Linked DNA regions of Homo sapiens: regions 1, 2 and 4 are each linked to region 3. The links come from fine-mapping of genetic effects on gene expression. A gene starts in region 3. Each other region holds a variant in brackets. All regions are shown on one strand. Distances are between the middles of the regions. Region 1 has its middle 41 kb from the start of MEAK7. Region 2 overlaps ATP2C2 (ATPase secretory pathway Ca2+ transporting 2). Region 3 holds the start of ATP2C2-AS1 (ATP2C2 antisense RNA 1). Region 4 overlaps SLC38A8 (solute carrier family 38 member 8).

Region 1 (2,763 bases), 78 kb before region 3:
GGATTTGAACTCGTCAGTGAGCTGGACAATCTGGTGTTTCCCCTCTTCCCTCCTTGCTTTCCTCCCTTTCTTCCTTTTCTCTCTCCCTCTCCCCCTCCCCCTTTTCTCTTCCGTTACTCCCAGAACCGTCCACCGTGGCCTCTTTACATTCCAAGCTGGATTTTCTCCTGATCGCTCCAGTTCTCGAGGCGAAAAGCAAAGTCAGTGCTATGCAACAAGGCCGGCTGTGGTTGTGCCCCCAATGTCTCACTGGCTTCGTCGCCCACCACGGTCCTCATTTATTCTGTTGCAGGCCCTCGGGTCTCCTCGCTGGGCCTCCTGCTCACACAGCACCATCCTGCCTCAGGGGGACTCCTGCTGTGCCTGGAGCCCACTGACCTCTAAGTACCCATGCTGGTCCCTCATTCATGCAGCTCCCTGCTCAATGTCACCTTAGTGGAGTAGAATGTCACCTTGCCCTGACCCCATTCTAAAACAGCACCTGTGTCTTTTCGAGGTCCCCGAGCCCCACTTATGTTTCTTTGTAGCACTTATCACCACCTGATACCGTGTGTCTATTCGCTTGTTCATTGCTGTCTTTCCCCGCCAGAAGACAAAGTGTAATCTCCAGAGGGTAATCTCCAGTAGAGCAGAGACTTCATTTTGATCGTCGTTACTTGCTCAGCACCAAGAACAGTTCCAGGCATGGGGCAGGTGCTCAATAAAACTCGTTGAATGCATGACTCTGTATCTGTATCTATGTCTATATAGATAAATAGCTTAGCTTTATTTATTTATTTATTTATTTATTGAGACATGATTTTGCTCTGCTGCCCAGGCTGGAGTGCAGTGGTGCCATCACGGCTCACTGCAACCTCTGCCTCCCGGGTTCAAGCAATCCTCCTACCTCAGCCTCCTGAATAGCTGGGACTACAGGTGTGCACCACCACGCCCAGTTACGTTTTTCTATTTTTTAGAATAGAAATCTGGGATTACAGATTTGAACCACCACACCTGACCAGCATTGTATTTTTTTAATGCAGACAGTTCTGTAACTTTTTTTTTCATGTATTAGTCTGTTTTGGAGACCTTTATACTTCACTGCATATAGACTGGCTGTCCTCAACCACGGGCAATTTTGCCCCCAGGGAACACTCGGCAATGTCTGGATGCATTTCTGGGTGTCACACCAAGGAGGCTGGTGCTACTGGCATCTGGTAGGTAGAGCCAGGGATACCGCTAAACCTCCTGCAATGCACAGGACACTCCCCCCCCCAACCACAAAGGATGATCCAGCCCAAATGTCACTTGTACCCATGTTGAGAAACCCAGATATAGACATAGCATTCTTTCTTATGGTAACAGATTCCATAGTGTAAATGTACCATCATTTAACCACTCACTTACTGATGAGCATTTTAGGATATTTCCAATTCTTTACTGTTGCAAACAATGCTGCAAGGAACATCCCTGCATAAGCATCCATGCCTCTTCATGCACATGGGCAGGTATTTCCCGAGGACAGATAGCCAGCAGAGGGTCAAAAGAGGACGTGCACCATGTTTTATTTTTTATTTTTTTTGAGATGGAGTCTCGCTCTGTCCCAGGCTGGAGTGCAGTGGCGCGATCTCC[G/A]CTCACTGTAACCTCTGCCTTCTGGGTTCAAGTGATTCTCCTGTCTCAGCCTCTAGAGTAGCTGGGATTACAGGTGTCTGCCACCATGCCTGGCTAATTTTTGTATTTTTAGTAGACACGAGGTTTCACCATGTTGGCCAGGCTGGCAAACTCCTGACCTCAGGAGATTCACCCACCTCGGCCTCCCAAAGTGCTGGGATTCCAGGCGTGAGCCACCGCCCCTGGTCAGGACATGCACCTTTGACATGGAGACAGCCTCTGTCAAGTCGCCCTTCACACAGGCTGTAACCAAAGCACACTTCCAGCACAGCATGGCAGGGGTGCCAGCTTCCACCATCTGTGCTGTGGGTGATGGCTTTGAGACCTTCCCCAGGGGCCTCTCAACACAGTGCACTTAATCAGAGGGAGACTTGTCCTGAGCATGGAGCGAAGGCAATCCACTTTTGCTGTTTCTCTCTGTGCCAGCTCCTCCCCACCCTTCTCTGTGACACTTCAGATCCCAGCTCTGCCACTTATCGTCACCTCACCTCTCCGTGCCTTAGTTTCTCCATCTGTAAAATGGAGCTAACAATAGCAACTTCTGCTCAAGGAGAGTTGGGAGAATTACATAAGTTAATACTTGCAAAAACTTTCAGGCCGGCTAAGCAGTCCTCGAACATGAGCTATTATCCTGTGACATTCCTCCAGAGACAGCAGCGTGCATCATCTATAGTGCCGAAAATTGGAAGCAGGCAGGTGTCCCCCCTGTAACGGAAACACCAAGTGCTTTGCACGGCACCATGAAGCAGCGTGATATCCAGGCTTTAAAAATAATCCCAGGATTCAGGCTCAGGGGTCAGCCAGGAGGAGAGGACACCCGAGAATAGCCCCGATGGAATGCAAATCCTGAATTTACCCAGGAACTGGCCAAAGGGGCTTTTGAGCCTGAACGAGGTCAATTATCCTAAAGTGCCACCTTTCCGAGTTTTCTACTACTTCATAAGCACACGGAGTGCAGTTAGAAATTGAATTTCATTTTTGCACATTTAAACGAAATGATCCTGGGGACTCTGGGGCACAGAGGAAATGCCCAGATGGTGTGAAATGAGGGTGTGTGCAGCCCCTGATGCCCCCGGCCCAGGTTTCAGGCCTCCAGGCCCCTTCGTCTGCTTT
Region 2 (2,500 bases), 95 kb after region 3:
GACATGTCAGATGTGGTTCTAGGATTTTTTTTAACGTGAATGACGTCATTGAAGGAAATATTTCTTTCTACTATTCCAATGGGCAGCCTTTAAGGCAGTCCCCAGCCATCACTCCCTCCCAGTACCCATGGCCTGTGTAACCCCTTCCCTTTGAGTGTAGACTGGACCTAGACTTGCATCAAACGAATAGAATATGGCAGAAGTTATGAGACCTCATTTCAAAATGAGATTCAAAAAAGGCTTTGGTTTCCAGTCTCTTTTTTTGTTGTTGTTGTTTTGAGATGGAGTCTCGCTCTGTCACCCAGGCTGGAGTGTAGTGGCGCAATCTTGGCTCACTGCAACTTCCACCTCCTGCATTCAAGCGTTTCTTCTGCCTCAGCCTTCTGAGTAGCCGGGGTTACAGGCACCCACCACCACACCCAGCTAATTTTTGTATTTTTAGTAGAGATGGGGTTTTGCCATGTTGGCCAGGCTGGTCTCGAACTCGTAACCTCAGGTGATCCGCCTGCCTCGGCTTTCCAAAGTGCTGGGATTACAGGCGTAAGCCACCATGCCCAGCCTGATTGAGTTTTAATAGACATCACCAATATATCAAAATAAGGCTGTTCTATTTGTACTTTATAATTTTATTATAAATTTGACTTTTTTTTTTTTTTTTGAGAGGGAGTCTCGCTCTGTCTTCCAGGCTGGAGTGCAGTTTCGTGATCTCAGCTCTCTGCAACCTCCGCCTCCTGGGTTCAAAGGATTTTCCTGCCTCAGCCTCCGCAGTAGCTGGGATTACAGGTGCCTGCCACCTCGCCTGGCTAATTTTTGTATTTTTAGTAGAGAGGGGTTTCACCATATTGGCCAGGTTGGTCTTGAACTCCTGAACTCAAGTGATCTGCACGCCTCAGCCTCCCAAAGTGCTGGGAAAACAGGAGTGAGTCACCGCAACAGGCCTAAATTGAACCTGATTTTATAGTTGAGTTATAAGCAAACAGTTATGTTTATTACAAGTTTTATGCTTATACTTACTTGATATCACACTTTTGTACAAATCATTTAAGACAACACTGGCCAGGTGCGGTGGCTCACGCCTGTAATCCCAGCACTTTGGGAGGCTGAGGCAGGCGGATCATGAGGTCAGGAGTTCGAGACCAGCCTGGCCAACATGGTGAAACCCCCATCTCTACTAAAAGTACAAAAATTAGCTGGGTGTGGTGGCGGGTGCCTGTAATCCCAGCTACTCGGGAAGCTGAGGCAGGAGAATCTGGGAGGCAGAGGTTGCAGTGAGCCAAGACCATGCCATTGCACTCCAGCCTGGGTGACAGGGCGAGACACTGT[C/G]TCGAAAGAAAAAACACTGTGGGGTTGCAGTACATTTCTTTAAGAAGATGCCCACATGTTGCTGAATTCTGAGAAACACTAATGATCTGTGAGTTTGGGCAAGCCTTGGGTTAAAGTTGTGTGTGCATGAGCCTCAGAATTCCCACACACATACTCTTTTCCAGTAACTGAGTGTAATCTCTTAAAAACACAAATCTGACTGTGCCTGTTTTATCACAGTTCTAATGTTTGGCCCATCTGGGAATAAATGAGTGACTATCATGTCCTGACTTAAAACCCTTCAACGATCCCCCACTGCTCCAGGGATAAAGCCCACACTCTGACAAGGCTCCGTACGACCCTCCTCTGCAGCCTCATCCTACCAACCCCAACGCCTCTACCTCTTCTGTCTAGAACTCGCTGTCAATCCCTGCCCTTCATCCAGCTCACCCTTTGCCACTCCTATTCATCTTAAACATCACGTCTTTCTCCCAGCTCTGACACGTTGGCATTAAACAGTGAACTGTGACCAGTTGCTGGGTGCCTGTCTCTGCCTCCTGGTTGGGATACCTGAGGGTAGAGAACTGTGCATCCTTATCAGCCCCAACTCCAGCTGGTAGCACTCACTTGACACACAGAGGGAGCCCCCTCCGTGAATCTAGGTTGAATGGATGGGTGGTCACTACATTCGTCTGTTGGGATCCAAGCCTCACCCTGGAGAGCCCAGAAGGATGCATCTGCTCACCAGCCAGGAAGGCAGTGGGCTGGGGCTATACCTGCCTCACTTAAGAGATGGGAGCCCTGAGGGGCAGAGACAGCTTCCCCCGGAGTTGGCGCTGAGTCACCTGGGAAGCAGGAATTTCTGCTCCAATCTCTTCCTTACCCTAATGTTCAGGTCAGCAGTGAGAAGCTTTTTCTAGTAACTAAATTAAGGAGGCCTCTCAAAGACCTTTTTGTTGTTGTTTTGTTTTGAGACAGGGTCTCACTCTGTTGCCCAGGCTGGAGCACAGTGGCATGATCACAACTCACTGCAGCCTTGACCTCCCAGGTGCAAGCAATCCTCCTGCTTCAGCTTGGTGAGTAGCTAGGACCACAGGTGCACACCACCACGCCTAATTTTTTGCAGAGATGGCATCTGGCTATGTTGCCCAGGCTGATCTTGAACTCTGGGGTTCAAGTGACCCTCCTGCCTCAGTCT
Region 3 (2,500 bases):
ATACATAAAGCTATTACTTTTTTCTTGGGCCCTGAGTTATTTTGCAGTATTGTATAGATAGGTGTGTGTTGATCATAAGCTTCTAGATTTTCTGTGGCCTTCATTTTGATTTTCTCTTGTACCCAAGAGTTTTTAAATTTTGCTGTGCTAGAGAATTTCCCCTAGTCCTGTCACTCGTCTTTAAATTAGATTGCATAGTGATTAGAGATGTCATCTGTATTATTATTTTTTTAAGACAGAGCCTCACTTCATTGCCCAGGCTGGAGTGCCATGGTGTGATCTCAGCTCACTGCTACCTCTGCCTCCCAGGTTCAAGCGATTCTCCTGCCTCAGCCTCCCGAGTAGCCTGGGATTACAGGCGCCCACCACCATGCCCAGCTAATTTTTGTATTTTTAGTAGAGATGGGGTTTCGCTATGTTGCCCAGGCTGGTCTCAAACTCCTTACCTCAAGTGATCCAACCGCCTCGGCCTCCCAAAGTTCTGGGATTACAGGTCTGAGCCACCATGCCCGACCAAGAAGTCATCTATATTAGATCTACTCTTTGGAATCACTGAGGTTTTGTGTCCTTTCATGTGGTAAGTTAATATAATGAATTTTCTGTATCCTTTGCCTGAATTTCCCATACTGTTTCCTCTTTAAATTTGAATGTTGTGTTGGTACATAGTCTGGCCTATGGATTTTTCAGTGGTGATTATATCTTGTTAAATTTCCTTCTTGGTCTCCTTTAATGCTTTTGGCCTTTCTTTTAATCTTGTCTGATTAGACTGTGTCACCTTGGTCTTGTGTGTTGTTTGTCTTTACCTGGTGTATTTTTGCCCTATGAGTATATCTTATCTTCTTACACACTTTGAAATAATTTTAGATTCATATAGACTTCCAAAAATTGTACAGGAGTTTCTGTCACTCCATGAGTGAGTGGATAAAGAAATTGTGGTACATCCATGCAGTGGAATACTAGTCAGCCATGAAGAAGAACACACATAAAACAACTTGAAGGGACCTTACAGGTATTATGCTTAGTGACAAAAGCCAGTCTTAAAAGGTTCTATACCATGATTCCATTTATGTAACAGTATTGAAGGAACAACATTATGGTGATGAAGAAGGGATTAGAGGTTGCTGGGATTAGGAGGGTGTTACTATAAAAAGTAAGGAGGAGTTTTTCAGGGGCGATGGAAGTTTTGCCTCCTCATTGTAGCAGTGGTTACCTGAATTGATGTGTGTCATACAATTTCATAGAACTTGTGTTGTGGGGGGCAGGAAACCACTCTCAGACCCAGTGATTGGCTAGAAAGACTCAGGACTCAGAAACTGTTGAGCTCAGAGGGAGAGGGTGACCAGTCTCTGCAGTTGCAGCCCTGGGGCTGTTCTAATCTGTATCTTTTCCTGGTAATAGACATGGCTGTGAGCATGACAGGTGTCAGTGAGCTCTGTGTGCCTCATCAACGAATCATCCAACCTGAAGGTGGTTGTGGGAAACTCTTGGACCTGCAGTCAGTATCAGAAGGCCTGGGCAGACTTGGCCAGCCACCTGGAGCACTGTGCCCTTAAACTCAGGTTTGCCTAACATCAGATACTATGTAAAAACCAGTGAAATTGAAATAGGTCTGCTGATAACAATATCATACCAAGCTTGTTAGAACAAGTTTATCTGTGTCTTAAAAAAAAACAAAAACAAAAAAACCCTGGGATTTTGATGGTAATTGTGTTAAACCTAATACAACAATCTCGGGAGAATTGATACTTTTTTTTGAGACAGACAAATAGTATTCAATTTTAAATTTCAGTTTCCAGTTGTTCATTGCTAATATATAGAAATACGACTGCTTTTTGTGTGTTAACCTTGTATCTTGTGGCTTTACTAAACTCGTTGATTCTACGAGGGTTTTTCTTTTTTAAAAAGATTTGTTGGGATTTTCTGTGTGGACAATTACGTTATCTGTGATTTTCTCCTTTCCAGGCTCTTTGCTAATGCCTTTTAACTTTTCTTGCCATATTACACTGGCTAGGACTTCTAATACTGTGCTGAATAGGAGTGGTGAGGCTGGTCACCCTTGGACCTTATCCTGTGGGGAAAGAATTCAGTTTTTCATCATTAAGTATGATGTTAGCTATAGGTTTTTTGTAGATGTTCTTTATCAGGTTGAAGAAGTTTCCTTCAATTCCTAGTTTGAGAGTTTTTATTACAAATGGAGATTGAATTTTATCAAATGCCTTTTCTGCATTAATTGATATAACCATGTGTTTTTCCTTCTTCAGACTATTAATATAGTGAGTTATATTGGTTTTTGAATGTTGAACTTTTCAGTTATATTGGTTTTGAATGTTGAACTTTGGAATGCTTGAATTCCATTCCTCAATTAACCCCACTTCGTCCTGGTGTCTTATATTCTTCGTACCTGGCTAGATCTGATTTCCTCATATTTTGTTGAGGATTTTCGTGCATATATTCATAAGGGATGTTGGTCTCTAGTATTTTTCTCTAGTTTTGGTATCAG
Region 4 (2,729 bases), 450 kb after region 3:
TTCAGGCTGTGGGCGAGGCTTTCAGAGGTGAGGGGTGTGGCCTTGTGGCTTCTCCCTCGGGCTTAGGGTGGAGCTTTCAGAGGTGAGGGTGTGGCTACACAGCTCCTCCCTTGGCTCTGGGCGGGGCTTTCAGAGGTGAGGGGTGTGGCCACATAGCTCCTCCCTCAGGCTCTGAGAGGAGGTTTTAGAGGTGAGGGGTGTGGCCATGCATCTCCTCCCTCAGCTCTGGGCGGGCCTTTCAGAGATGAGAGTGTGGTCACACAGCCCTTCCCTCAGGCTCTGGGCGGGGCTTTCAGGGCTGAGGGTGTGGCCACACGGCTCCTCACTCAGGCTCTGGGTGGAGCTTCTCAGAGGTGAGGCTGTGGCCACGTGGCTCCTCCCTCACACTCCCTGGTCTGGGCTGTTAGATTAAATTCTGATGCTGTGACCAGGTGGCCAGTTGTAGCGCTGGCTATTTCCTGTGGTGGGAAGGACTGCCCAGGACAGGTTTGAGTTGAGAGAGGATCCTTTGGGAGCTTTAGGCCAAGCTACATGGCCCTGAATCCTAGCAGAACTATTTAAAAAAAAAAAAAAAAAGGGCTGGGTGCAGTGGCTCATGCCTGTAATCCCAGCACTTTGGGAGGCCAAGGCGGGCGGATCACGAGGTCAAGAGGTCCAGACCATCCTGACCAACATGGTGAAATCCCGTCTCTACTAAAAATACAAAAATGAGCGGGGTGTGGTGGCACGCACCTGTAGTCCCAGCTACTCGGGAGGCTGAGGCACGAGAATGACTTGAACCCGGGAGGTGGAGGTTGCAGTGAGCCGAGATGGTGCCACTGCACTCCAGCCTGGCAGCAGAGTGAGACTCCGTCTCAAAAAAAAAAAAAAAAAAAAAAAAACACACACACAACAAAAGAAAGTAATGGTAGCTGCCAGTTGCCGAGCACTTCCCGGGTGTCAGGCATGGACTCTCACCATCTCCTCATAGACTCTGCTGTGGGGGGGCATGTTGTCAAGGTTGCCTGAAAGATGGGGCTCTGGGAAGTCGGTTGCTGCCAGACCTCTGCCTAAGTCATTAGGGCATGTTGAGCTGGGACTCCAGCCCCGTCCTTCCAGCTCCACTGTGTTGCCTCTCCAGGGGGCCTGAGCCAGGGGCACC[C/T]ATGGGCGGAGGCCTTGCTGGCCTCCTGGGTCCCTGAGGACCTCTCCCGGGACCTTTTTGTTGCTTTGGGTTTGATAACGAAGAACTGTGGGTGACCCTGTCTTTTTTGCAGGTTTGTGCCTCATCTGTGCAATGGGTGTCGAGCCTATAGGACCAAGAGTCAAGTAAGTGTCCCTAAGATGAGGTGGCACCCTGGGTGTGCCCCGGATCAGAGTAAGAATGTTTCAGGGGACCCTGCAGATCCTATTTCTCATCCTCTGCATCCTGCAGGTGAGAAACCTGCGAGCCACAGGAAGAGAGTCTCTGTCTACCCAGTATGAGGGCATCTGAGCCAGGATAGGAGCCCGGGCCAGTAACACCGGGTCCTCCAAGGGCCTTCCCTTCCACTCTGAGGGTCTGTGGTTGGGATTTCATGTAGATTCCAGCCTCTGGAAGCACCCAGTGGTGCATCTGTACCCTCCTTTGTTACCTGGCTCGGACCCAGGGCAGGATCAGGGTGCAGGCTGGGTTAGAAAGGCCCCATGGCCGGCCAGACACCATCATCACAGCAGTGGGTCGCTGTTCCCAGGCTCCTCTGCTAGGCACTGAGCTAGGTCCTTTTACATGTTCACCTCCCCACCATACCCACATGTCTTCATCCTACAGCTGAGGAGGCGGGCCCGGATGCTAGTGAGGACAGAGCTAGGATGCAACCCAGGCCCCTGGCTCCCAGGCCCCATGCTAACCCACCTGCCTGGCATACAATGCTGTTGAGACCAGATAATTTGGATCTTTCCTTCATTTGACAAATATTTATCCCCGAGCGGACCTGTGGATCAGACACGACTGAGCCTCTGTACTTTGCCACTGAGCAGCTGAGTCTGACCCACGGAAGAGGACGATGTACACGTGAATGATGTGCGCTTCCTCAGCCGCCCCTGGGTAGTCTGGGGTTCTGGGTGACTCCCTCCCATCCCATAGATGGGGAAACTGAGGCTGAGGCAGGTAAAGAGATGATGTATTAGTTTTATGGGGTTATTGTAACAAATTACCATAAATTGGGGCATGGTGGGGAGGCTTAAAGCAACAGAAATGAATTTTTTCCCCAGTTCTGGAGCCAGGAGTGTGAAATCAAGGTGTTGGCAGGGCTGGACTCTCTGAAGGCGCCTCAGCTTCTGGTGGCCCCAGGTGCTCCTTGGCCTGTGGCTACATCACTCCAGTCTCTGCCTTTATCATTATTTAGCTTTCTCCCTGTGTCTCTGCGTCTCAGAAATCCCTCTGCTTTTATTTATTTTAGTTTTTGAGACAGAGTCTTGCTCTGTTGCTCCGGCTGGAGTGCAGTGGCGTAATTGTGGCTCACTACAGCCTCAACCCCCTGGGCTCAAGCAATCCTCCTGCCTCAGCCTCCTGAGTAGCTGGGACCACAGACGCCCACCATCACACCTGGCTGCCTTTCTTTTATAAGGATACCTACCATCAGATTAGGGTCCACCCTAAATCTAGGTTGTATCTTCTCTCAAGATCTTTTCCTTAATTACATCTGCAAAACCCAGTTTCCAGATAAGCTGGCAAGCACAGGTTCCAGGTAGACATGAATTTTGGGGGCCAC

What was found. PIP is the estimated chance that this variant, and not a neighbour inherited with it, causes the effect. A credible set is the group of variants that fine-mapping cannot tell apart.
Region 1: its variant is the best candidate, but not a certain one, in a credible set for the expression of ATP2C2-AS1 in whole blood (TOPMed, PIP 0.67).
Region 2: its variant is the best candidate, but not a certain one, in a credible set for the expression of ATP2C2-AS1 in lung (GTEx, PIP 0.67).
Region 4: its variant is the best candidate, but not a certain one, in a credible set for the expression of ATP2C2-AS1 in vagina (GTEx, PIP 0.87).

The regions. Positions count from the first base shown.
Region 1 is chr16:84,544,731-84,547,493 of GRCh38, reverse strand. No RefSeq gene overlaps it. Among named protein-coding and RNA genes, the nearest start is that of MEAK7, 41 kb to the right of the region's middle. RefSeq lists enhancers at 1-104, 105-856, 2,346-2,763. The variant G/A (reference allele first, on the strand shown) is at 1,612.
Region 2 is chr16:84,371,278-84,373,777 of GRCh38, reverse strand. The region is part of intron 1 of ATP2C2 (ATPase secretory pathway Ca2+ transporting 2); the gene reads right to left. Among named protein-coding and RNA genes, the nearest start is that of ATP2C2, 4.0 kb to the right of the region's middle. The variant C/G (reference allele first, on the strand shown) is at 1,324.
Region 3 is chr16:84,466,363-84,468,862 of GRCh38, reverse strand. It overlaps ATP2C2-AS1 (ATP2C2 antisense RNA 1), which reads left to right and starts at 1,502. Exons shown (of 3, transcript NR_146503.1): 1 at 1,502-1,559.
Region 4 is chr16:84,011,577-84,014,305 of GRCh38, reverse strand. SLC38A8 (solute carrier family 38 member 8) reads left to right here. Exons shown (of 11, transcript NM_001080442.3): 10 at 1,254-1,305. Among named protein-coding and RNA genes, the nearest start is that of SLC38A8, 30 kb to the left of the region's middle. RefSeq lists a silencer at 178-327. The variant C/T (reference allele first, on the strand shown) is at 1,142.